Homo sapiens: one gene and its partners. The protein of the gene in region 1 purifies or fractionates together with the protein of each later gene. This does not show direct contact. Each region holds a gene or a part of one and is shown on either strand. Other genes may lie near its edges. The genes, in order: WDR72, HERC4 and SPAG1.

Region 1 (3,726 bases):
TTAAGAATTGAGTTTTTCATAGACTGATGGATCTGTTTGTTTCCTAGCTCTGACCTTCGGCAAGTTACTTATGTTCTCCAAGACTCATTTTCTTCATGTTTGGAATAGTGATAATAATGCATATTGATATTATGAGGACCGCATGAAGCAGTGAACGTAATCTAAGCAGCACAGTGTCTACAACTTAACATATAGTCAGTAAGTGGTAGCAATTGTTTACTTTGACACTGACTTTTCCTCTCTCTCTCTGTCTTTTTTTTTTAACAAGTTGAAATTCAACTGGGAGAAATGTAAAGCCCTACACAGTAAGTGTTTAAAACAATAAGCGAGTACAGGATGAGGGAGATGTAATTTACTGAACCAGTCAACCTTTTGGTTAATTGACATTTTGTTGCTTGTGAGTCGGCAGTGAGTTGTGAGGGCCCATGTATTAGTCCTTTCTCATACTGCTCTAAGGACACTGCTCTAAGACTGGGTAATTTATAAAGAAAAGAGGTTTAACTGACTCACATTTCCACGTGGCTGGGGAGGCCTCAGGAAACTTACAATCCTGGCGGAAGTCACCTCTTCATAGGGTTGCAGGAGAGAGAATGAGTGCGGAGCAAAGGGGGAAGCCCCTTATGAAACCATCAGATCTCGCGAGACCTTACTATCACGAGAACAGCATGGGGGAAACCATCCTCATGATTCAATTACCTCCCACTGGGTCCCTCCCACCACATGTGGGGATTATGGGAACTGCAAGATGAGATTTGGGTGGGGATGAAGCCAAACCATATTAGCCCAGAAAGCTGATATGATTTTTAGATTGCTTTAGTATAGATTAGAACACAGAGTCCTGTGAAATCCTTATTCTCCTTAGGGTATCAGTACTCCTACTTTCTTTGTTACCACTTTCTTATGTTAAGAGGAATAATGAATTTCAGAATGGGGGAGTGAGAAGGTGTGGTTGATAGAGACTACCTTTTCTATTAGAGACTGAGCTATGCCCCCCACTTTTTTAGACTGGATATGTAAATTACCAGCTGAATGTTTCAGTAATTGGACTTCCTTGGAGAAACTCTTCTTGATCTCCTCCCAGCAGGGTTAAGTGCAGCCTCTGCTGCGCTCTCTACCTGCTTTGTGGGAACCAGGCCTAGCCCTTCTCTTTCTGCGGTAATGGAGGCCCCATGATCTGTCAGCATCATGGGACAGGAAGTGGGGCCTTCATCTCATTCTCAAGAGGAGAACAGAGTCAAGAACACAGTAGGTGCTTTATAAATCTTTGTTAAATTAATTAACTGCCACTTCCCAAACCACTGTTAAAACAAATTGCTTTATTTTCTGTGATGCATTGCATAGTTTTCTTCTCTTTCTTAAATGTGCAAAACCCTGTGCTAATTCTATATGCCCGCTTTTGAGAATCTATATGCCTGCTTTTGAGAAATACAATGTATTTAGCTGTAATTATTATTTAAAATTGAAAATAAAAATAATTTGTAATAGCATCATTAATTTTTAGTTAAGGGAAATAATGAATGTGATGCCTAATAATCCGTTATGCCACATAGGAGCACAGATAATTATTTCTCCTCTTGTTGAGGAACTGGGATGTAAGCATTTAAAGTATCTTCTTTATATGCATTTTGATTTCCAATTGAACAAAAAAATATAAACAGGAAGGACTTCATTCTTTTTTCCAGTGAGATCACAGAGATAAACCAAGTTAGAGCAACTCTCTTGAATAGCTAATAGCTGTCGCCTGGGGAAGGAGAAAATTATTTTCTGCCTTCCATGTTGATGTATATAGAACATGTGTTCTGAGTAGCTCCTATTTTCACTGCCTCTTTTTCCAGTTGAGGTGCAACATAAACTATTTTAATTAACATTGTGTCACCAAAAGGGGTTGAAATAGCCAATTGAATTCTGCCAAGATAGAGTCTTTTGATGAAAACATATCTTTATTGATTGTGGATGAAGAAAATCATTCTTAAAATGAAATCCAGAGAAAAATCATATCCCTCAGAGAAAATTTCTGAGTGGCAGGCTGAGATTAACATCATAAAATTGAATTTGTGCTGCAAGCCTTTGATGTAATCAGCAGCTGGGAGATGGTGTTGCCCTTGCTGTGCTCTCTCTGATTGTGGTGAATTATTGTGTGGAATGAAATAAGTGTTTCTTGTGTCCCTCCTCCAAGAAATACAAACAAGGTATTACCAGGTAGTTTCTTGCTAGTTAAAATGGGTTGGATCGATTCCAGGCCTCTCAGGCTCTTATACACCCATGAACTATAGGTGTTGGATATTTATTTATGCCCTAGGGACAGAATTTCTTTATATCACTGGACAGTGACTTCTTTGGTCAGTAGAAATCAAGCAGAGAAGAGGGATCCCCTTTGCCACGGATTTTTTTTTCTTAGAATAAGCAGAGGCCAGGATGTTTTAGAAAGTGCCATAGTGCCACATATTGCCTGGTTTTTGTTGGCCTGTAGGTTCAGGCAAGCCCTTTCGTGTCTCCCTCTGCTACCTCTTATGTCATAAACTGCATTGCAGTCACCCCAATGTGGAAATCTCACATTGTGTATTATGAGTCTTTTTCCATGACACTAGTGTTACGATGAGCTTTTTAGTGTTTTTGTATTAAGTTCTGATGCTTTGAAAACATTCTGGCCCATGCATACACTTCCACATACATAATGAATAGGTTTTACAGATTAAGACTCTTAGACTAAACAGTCTTTAGTCTAAGAGTGATTTGGCATCTTAACCACCCCTGTAGTTGAATTTAAGTTGTGTTTGTTTTGTTTTGTTTTGTTTTGTTTCATTTTCTTTAAAGAAATAGGTGGACTGGCTTGTCTGTGTGGAACTGTAAACAGATGATGATGTCATCATTATGAATTCTCACTTTCAAGGCCTTTAAGAAGTGGTATGGGCTTTGAGGTCATACAAATCTAGGGATGTAATCCCTAGGGATGTAGTCGTAGCCAGGGGATTTAGATTTACCTAGCCTTCTTTTCCTAATAACAGTAATGGTAGATGTGTGGATTACTTGAGAAAATGCATAGGAAAGCCACCAGCACAAGGTCTGGAACACAGTTGGCATTCAGTAAACACTTGCTGAATTGAGTATACAACACTGTGCCTTAACACTGAGAAAAGAGGCAAGGATAGTGAAGACAGAAGGTGGGATGTGTTTAGGAATAAGGGAAAGTAGGAAGAGCCAGGACTAGAGAAAATTTTGAATAATCAAGTGGTGAGATAGGGACTATGAAACAGAGGTGGGGCTTATCTTGGCTCATGACAGAAAATCCACAAAGATGTTCACAAAAGCTACAAAGGCTATGGTTCCTTCAGATTATGAGCCTCAAATCCTGTACTTCCTCTACCACTTTTTCCAAACCACCTTGGGATTCTGCATTCATAGCCTTGCTGATGAAAGTCTGTTTTGGCCTAGCTTCTGCTAGAATCCTTTAGTGCAAAAGGTGAGTTTAAAGTCTTCCCTGGCAGGTATTCCTGATTGCTAGGACAGAGTCAGAAAACACTAGAATCGTGGGCATTAGGGAGGCTTCTCCAAATAGGCCTTGTCCATATAGGCCTGTATTTCTGCCTATGGGAGTACCTGCCATTTGCTTATTCTAGGAGGAAAAATGGATTGTTATAATTACAGTGGACTGACTTCCAATGTCAACTTGTGCTGAAACTGAAAGAAGGGAAGTAGATGTCAGGGCCAAGGAAGAAGATAACTAGT
Region 2 (4,292 bases), on another chromosome or scaffold:
GATCAGGGTAGGCTCTAATCCAATATCTGGTGTCCTTATAAAAGAGGGAAATTTGGACAGACACACAGGGAAAACAAGGTGAAGAGGGATGCTTCTACAAGGATTGCCAAGGATTGTTGGCAACCACCAGAAGCTAGCAGAGAAGCCTGGAAAAGATTATCTCTCAGAGACCCCAAGAGAGAACCAAGCTTACTTTCACCTTGATTTTGAACTGGTCTTCAGAACTGTGAGACAATAAATTTCTGTTGTTTTAAGCCACCGAATCTGTTTTAATTTATATGGCAAGCCTAGGACACGAATACACACACTTGAACATATTCTAGCACAGACAGTTCTTATCTAAAACATGTTTTTCAACAAGAGATAAAGAAACAGGCCAGGACCGGTGGCTCACGCCTGTAATTCCAGCACTTTGGGAGGCCGAGGCGGGTGGATCGCCTGAGGTAACGAGTTTGAGACCAGCCTGGCCAATATGGCGAAACCTTGTCTCTACTAAAAATGCAAAAATTAGCCGGGCATGGCGGCGCATGCCCGTTGTCCCAGCTACTCAGGAGGCTAAGGCGGAAGTTCCAGTGAACTGAGATCGCACCATTGCACTCCAGCCTTGGGGAACAGAGCGAGACTCTGTCTCAATAAATAAATAAATAAATAAATAAATAAAAATAAGAAAAGAAAAAGAAAGATGGCCTATTTGTGGAACTTCTTCTAGGTACTGAATATTCATTCTAGCAATACCCAACTTACAATTTCAAAAGTGCATTGTTTCAAGTTCTCCTGCTTTTTAAGAAGTTAAGGCTGGCCTAGGAGATCCAGACTTCGTTTTTATGAATCAGGGACTGCAGCCAATGTGTAATTTTCTCTGATAGAATGAGACCCTGCAATTCAAGCCTATCTTTCAGGGAGAGTGTAGAAAGTGATGGTAGCCAACACTGTACAAGGAAACTGAACTGGTGGTGGTGGTAGTAGAGTAGCTTCAGCCATTGCCATCAACACATCTCACATCCTCAGACTGGCTCCAGTTGAGGCCATGGGATAAAATAACTCTTCACCAGTCTTTATGTTCATAATTGTGATGTTTCATCTGCTACTTTAAAATCTCCTTGGGAAAAGAGAGAGTAAAATAATAAAAAGACTAGCTAGCATCCATGAGCACAAAGACAACCAAACCAAAAAACAAAGTGATTTTCTTCATTAAAAGGCTTTGTGCACGCCGAAGCATTCTCAAAAACAGTTGACATCTTCTTCGTTTGTCTTCGCAAACTCCAACTTTCTGTATTTGGCTTTTCCCTCTTAAAGCAACGCAAAGCGGCACACTGCGCAGGCGCCTGTGGCCAGCCACCCCCCCCCCCCCCCCCCCGGAAGATTCGGCGCAGGCGCCGGTGCCGGGGCCGGGAAGTGGGCGGGCTCGCGCGCGTGCTCTGCGGTTCACTTCCGGCCAGCCCCTCCCCCGCCTCCCTCGCGTGGCCACCTCCCCCTCTGCCTTCTCCTACCCAGTCTCTTCCCCAACTCTCCCCACCCCTGGTGCTCTCCGCCCCGCTTGCCTCCCGTTCTTCCCCGCCCGCTCCATCCGGGTCGCTGACGGCTGTCTCTGGACTGGACAGCAGTGGCGTCCGCTTTTCTCTAAGGAACCCGGTAAAGTTTCCCAGGGGCCGGGGAGGGGAGCAGCGGAGCAGCGGCACAGACGCCGGAGGTGCCCTGGTGATCGTCGCCACTGGCTGACAGAGGAGGGTCCCAGGAGCCGGAGACGTGCTTCAGCGACCGCGCTGCCTTGCTCTCTGGGCAGGGGCCGCCCCCCGTCACCTTGGGCTTCCCCTACCCTGAAGGGCTTGGGCGAGTTGTGGCCCCAGCGGGTTCGGGGGCGTGTGACGGCGTTAGGGAGGGGCAGGCCGGGCTGGGCGGATGCAGGCCGGCCCGGCATAGGGCGCTTTCTCCGCGCTTCCTGGGGGTGAGGGGCGTGGGGCGAGGGCAGGGCTGTGGCTCCCTGGCCCCGGGGCTGGAATGTCTCATCTGCCTGGGGATGGGCTTCTCTCAGGTTGAGGCCGCGCACTGCCAAGCCTCGGCCGCCGGCCTCTGAAGCTGTTGCGAGCGGCCGGTTGCGGTAGTCGTCTGCTTGGCTGCGAGGTTGGGTGTGTGCAGATGATTTCTCTTTCCCAGTCCCCATGAGCTGATCTGGGTGCACGTTCAGGGAAAGACGGGACTAAACTGCTTCTCATTTCCCTACCTGTTGCTGGCGAGAGGACGCCTCTGTGTTTTAAAGAAAAGGGTGGTTAAACCTCGCGCGCTGAAGTCGGGGTATTTTCCTGTATTACTCTTATTTTGTTTTTAAATATGGGAAGACAATGCAGAACTCTTGGGAATTATCGAGTTCTGATACCCCAAAAGAATGAAATCAAACTTCTGTTAATGGGATGATGGGTCGTGGAATGGGACACCTTGGGCACTTGCTAACAGGAACATAGGAAAATTGGAGTTGAAACTTCGCAGGCTCTGTAAGAATGTGGATGACTGCTACAGAATAAGGCTGACTTCCTGTAATTATGATATTTAGTAACGCGATGTGTTTAAAAGTCTACGTATGTATAGATGAAGTGGACTCTGTTATTTGTGTCTTTCTTTACAAGTGAGGAAATATTCAGTCAGTGTGCTGGAAAGTTCTACAGATTTCGCCATCAGACTATCCATTCCTATTCTTGAAAAATCTGCAGTGCTGGAGTTATTTGCAATTCCCCCCCGCCAATCTTTAAATAATTGTCTCAGAGATATAGATAGATATAGATTGCCCACGGGTGATTTTTTTAATCCCGGTTACCACTTGTAATAAAAGAGGTTGAATTTTGGAGAGAATTGATATTTAAATTGCATGTTTTTTTTTCTGTATTATAATTATGCACATTGATTTAGTTTTAAAATTAGTGAGGTTGGAATGTTAGTATTTTGATTTGAAATCTGGGATCTTTGGAGGTGATTTAAGATTATGGTTTGGTAAGAGAATCTTCATTTTCTCTCTGGGCTAAAGAGTAATTGGGAGAGTCGTTTAAATTGTGGAAAATTGCTTTAAATTTCCATTATTGGTTTTATTTCTGTTACAGATAAGAACTCCATTTTCTGTTGATGTGGAGGTAGGTATTAGAAAGCTTAATTATACTAGGATTGCAAGGTTATGTTTCTGCAGTTGGCTAAATTTTGCACTGTGTATATTTGCTTTTTGGGCAGAGGAAAGATGTCTTATTTCTTGTTCCCATTGAAATTATTTAAAGCAAAAAGTAGAAAAAATTGTGATTAATTTCATCAAGGTACTTATTCCTATTAGTTTAGTCTATCACAAGATAACCAGAAGTCAAAACTAGTTAATATGTTTTAAATTTTGCAAAGGATCATAGAAAGTGTCATATTTTCCCTAAAAATTTCTGTATGATACATTTTAAAAAATACAACTGATTGGTTTTTGAAACTGAATGATACTTATGTAGCATGTTATAAAGTATATTTAATGTTTACCATGTAGCAATTATTGTAGCCTAGCACTTGAAAGAGCAATTATACATCCTTTTTTCTTTGAAGTCATATTAACTTCTTTCTATTTCCTCAGACATAGGGTACCTCCAACTTTCCGGGGTTTCAGAAGAGAATTTTTTATTGAAACTGGAAGACCAAAATAATTACAAGCATGTTGTGCTGGGGAAATGCATCCTTTGGGCAGCTAGGTTTGGGTGGAATTGATGAAGAAATTGTACTAGAGCCCAGAAAAAGTGACTTCTTTATAAATAAAAGGGTCCGAGATGTAGGATGTGGACTCAGACATACTGTGTTTGTTCTGGATGATGGAACAGTGTACACATGTGGATGTAATGATCTAGGACAGCTAGGTCATGAAAAATCCAGAAAGAAACCAGGTAAGTTGAAATGTTTTTAAAATTTGCTATTTTTAATAATTATATCATTTTAAATTTGAATCATCGTATAATTTCTCTAGTTGTAACTATATGTTTATCAAGCTTTAAAAGCAAAGTAGAAGTTATGTATTTCCATTATATGTGTATATTTGTATGGTTCTAAGTACTTTATGTTGTGGTTTCTTTTTTTTTACTACTAGTATTATAAAACCTTATTTTGTATGACGATATAAAACAATAAAGAAAATCAGCCTGCAGTATATAAATCTTTGGTACAGAGTGTGTAGTGTGCAGGTCCTCTTTAATAAATTCTGTTCAGCCACCCTGGATAGATTTTAAATGCATAATTTACTCTGTGTTTACCTTACTTTGGGAGGGGGGAGGAAAACAAGACGGAAG
Region 3 (3,726 bases), on another chromosome or scaffold:
TACAGACAACAAACAGGGACAGATGAGTCTCATTATTCATTGACTCTTGGTGTTTTCATAGTGTGTTAAATGCCTGATTTCAATTTTACAGCAACAAAAAATACCAATATTTATTCTGAAAGGTAATTGTATGTTCCAAGCAGCCGATATTAACAACTTCCATCACGACTCTAGGAATAATTCGCAGTTCTGAACCATGTTTTAGAAAAACATTTCCAGCAGGTCTGTGCAGGATTTTTTCCTATTCCATCATTGGTAATAATTGCACTTCTTGCAGCAGGAACTTGAAATTCTTCTGTTGCAAACTGTAAGACTGCTGTGAAAGGTGTACTTTCAGGAACAGAGTACTTTGTACGCCAGCCGCGGGTCAGACCTCAGAGTGATCTTAAAGGAAACCTTTGACATGGTGGCGCCGGGAGGAACCCAGAACCCACGCCAACTCCGCGGAGCAACCCCACTTCCTCCACGGTGCCGGGGACCACACCGCCCCACTCACCCTTATCCAGTTTTTAAAGTGTGTGATGAAAATTGGTTACTTTGGAGTTCCTTTTTTTCTTCTTTTAATCATTCCATAGATTAACGGGTAAAAATGGAGACTATGCGGGTTAAGGAAAGAGACTGGGAAGCAGCCCTTGAGATCTCCACAGAACCTCAGGGTTCCATGGAACCCAGCCTGCAAACCGCTGGTCTAGATGATCCTAAATAAGGTGCTAACTCTAAAACTTATTTATTTCTTTTTAAGATCTGGTGAGGAAGGATATTATCCTGAACTTACAGAATTTTGTGAAAAGCATCTTCAAGCCTTGGCCCCTGAAAGCAGAGCTTTGAGGAAAGATAAACCAGCAGCAACAGCAGCCAGTTTTACAGCTGAAGAATGGGAAAAAATTGATGGTGATATAAAGGTATATAGTAATACCAATTTTCCATAGATATTGTTGAGACATTCTATATATGTTTACTTCACTTATCGGAAATCCTAGGCTTCTTGTTTGTCCGTAAAGGGCTTTTAGTGTCAATTAGGCAGGATTGGTTGCTTTTTACACCCAGGGGAACATTGCGAATTCGCGTGTGTGTGCGTCCGTACATGTGTATATTTAAATTGATTAAATAATATTCTGTCCTATTAAAAAACCTATAATTTAATCATCTTCAATAAATAGTGCTGTATAAACATGTTTATTTGTAATTTTTTTTCTTTTTTTTTTGAGATGGAGTCTTGCTTTGTTGCCCAGGCTGGAGTGCAGTGGCACGATCTTGGCTCACTGCAACCTCTGCCTCCCAGGTTCAAGTGATTCTCCTGCCTCAGCCTCCCGAGCAGCTGGGATTACAGGTGCATGCCACCATGCCTGGCTAATTTTTGTATTTTTAGTAGAGATGGGGTTTCACCATATTGGCCAGACTTCTCGAACTCCTGACCTCAGGTGATCCACCCACCTCGGCCTCCCAAAGTGCTGGGATTACAGGTGTGAGCCACCATGCCTGGCCTATTTGTAATTTTTTTGCACCTCCCTGATTATTTCCTCAGGATAAATTATTATAATTCAAATTGCTTGGTCAGATGTGGTTGCTCACACCACCTGTAATCCCAGCACTTTGGGAGGCTGAGGCAGAAGGATCACTTCAGGCCAGGAGTTTGAGACCAGCCTGGGCAACATAGGTAGAGCTGTCTCTACAAAAATATAAAAATTAGCTGGACGTGGTGGCATGTGTCTGTAATCCCAGCCATTCAGGAGGCTGAGACAGGAGGATCGCTTTATCCTGAGAGACCGAGGCTGCCGTGAGCTGTGATGGTGTCATTGCACTCCGGCCTGGGTGACAGAGTGAGACCCTGTCTAAAAACAAAAAGCAAGAGAAAGAGAAAAAGAATTTAAATTGTTTGATCAAAGGATTTGAATATTTTTAAGCCTTTTCAAACATATGTTCTCAGAAAAGTTGTACCTTCATACACCACCCCCAACAGTGTATAAGAATGCCCAAGCCAGGTGCAGTGGTGTGTGCCTATAGTCCCAGTTACTCAGGGAGGATTGCTTGAACCCAAGAGTTCAAGGCCAGCCTAGACAATACAGAGAGACCTGGTTTCTTTATTAAAAAAAACAAAAACAAACAAACAAAATGCCCATTTTTAGGTACTCTTTGCTGGATACTGTAATCATTTTTAGTCAATTAAATAGTTGAAAAAATGGTAGTACCATAGTCCCTTCTTATCTTTGGGGCATACTTTCCAAGACCCCCAGTAGATGCCTAAAACTGCAAATAGTACTGAAGCCTAAATATACCATGCTTTTTCCTCTATATGCATATCTATGATAAAGTTTAACTTATAAATTAGGCACACTAAGAGATTAACAATAAAAAACAGAACAATTATAACAGCATACTGTTGTAAGAGTTATGTGAATATGAGCTCTCTTTCTCTCAAAATATCTTACTGTATTGTACTCACCTATTTTTGGATGGCAGTTGACTGTGGGTAACTGAAACCACAGAAAGCAAAATTACAGATAAGGGGAGGACTATTGTAGTATATTTTTTGATTGCTAGAAAAGTTGAGTTATTTTTCATGAATCTGTCACTTAAATTTCTTCTTAAATATTTACAGATTTCTTTTAATCAGCTTTATTGAGATAAAATTTACATTCCATATAAATTACCAACTTTATAGTGTACATTTCACTGAGTTTTGACAAACGTATATGATACAGAACATTTCCATCACCACTAAAAGTTTTCTCTTGCCCATTTGTGGTCAGTGTAGACCCCACTGCCTGGCCTTTGGCAACCACTGAACTGTCAGCATAGTTTTGCCTTTTCTAGACTTGCATATAAATGTAATCATACAGTATGTTGTCATTCCTGTGTGTCTTCTTTCACTTATATAATGCTTTTGAGATTCATCTGTGTTGTTGCATGTGTCCATAGTTTGCTCCTCTGAGTTGCTAAGTAGTATGAAATTGTATGAATATCCCACAGTTTGTTTACCCACTTACCTTTGATAAGACCCGCAGTGGATGCCTAAAACCTAGATAATACTGAGCCCTAAATATACTATGTTTTGACTGCCAAAATGTTTTCCAAAGTGGCTGTACCATTGTGCAATCCTGACAGCAATATATAAAATTTCCACCTGCTTTACATCCTGGTCAGCACATAGTATTGTCCGTTTTGTTAGTTTTAGCCATCCTACCAGGTATCTCATTGTGGTTTTAATTTGCGTATCTCTAGTGACTAATGATATTGAGTGTCTTTTCATGTAACTTCTATTGTGAGGTGTCTTTACATCCTTTGCCCGTTAAAAAAAAATTGCCTTGTGTTCTTATTGAGTTGCCAAATAATTGTTCTTTATCAGATACGTTGCTTTTTTGCCCAGGCTGGAGTGCAGTGGCACCATCACAGCTCGCTGCAGCCTTGACCTCCCAGACTCAAGCGATGCTCCCACTTCAGCCTTCAGAGTAGCTGGGACCACAGGTGTGTACCACCACACCTGGCTATTTTTTTTTTTTTAATTGTTTGTAGAGACAGGGCTTCACTATGTTGTCCAGGCTAGTCTTGAACTCCTGGGCTGCTTTGGCCCCTCAAAGTACTGGGATTACAGCATGAGCCACCATGCCCAGCCATCTTTTTTTTTTTGTTGTTGAGACAGAGCTTTGCTCTTGTTGCCCAGGCTGGAGTGCAATGACACAGTCTCAGCTCATTGCAACCTCCAACTCCCAGGTTCAAGCAGTTCTC

Evidence for each region.
Region 2: the proteins of WDR72 (region 1) and HERC4 purify together in Homo sapiens (affinity purification with mass spectrometry; one large-scale study listed by BioGRID and IntAct). This does not show direct contact.
Region 3: the proteins of WDR72 (region 1) and SPAG1 purify together in Homo sapiens (affinity purification with mass spectrometry; one large-scale study listed by BioGRID and IntAct). This does not show direct contact.

What each region holds. Positions count from the first base shown.
Region 1 is NC_000015.10:53,753,139-53,756,864, reverse strand, and holds part of WDR72 (WD repeat-containing protein 72), read left to right. Parts: intron 1-47; exon of another isoform or gene 48-198; intron 199-3,726. UniProt on the Homo sapiens protein: Plays a major role in formation of tooth enamel. Specifically required during the maturation phase of amelogenesis for normal formation of the enamel matrix and clearance of enamel proteins.
Region 2 is NC_000010.11:68,072,484-68,076,775, reverse strand, and holds the start of HERC4 (probable E3 ubiquitin-protein ligase HERC4), read left to right. Parts: upstream 1-1,492; 5' UTR 1,493-1,632; exon of another isoform or gene 1,633-3,089; 5' UTR 3,090-3,119; exon of another isoform or gene 3,120-3,589; 5' UTR 3,590-3,667; coding exon 3,668-3,893; intron 3,894-4,292. UniProt on the Homo sapiens protein: Probable E3 ubiquitin-protein ligase involved in either protein trafficking or in the distribution of cellular structures. Required for spermatozoon maturation and fertility, and for the removal of the cytoplasmic droplet of the spermatozoon.
Region 3 is NC_000008.11:100,165,072-100,168,797, forward strand, and holds part of SPAG1 (sperm-associated antigen 1), read left to right. Parts: intron 1-742; coding exon 743-902; intron 903-3,726. UniProt on the Homo sapiens protein: May play a role in the cytoplasmic assembly of the ciliary dynein arms. May play a role in fertilization. Binds GTP and has GTPase activity.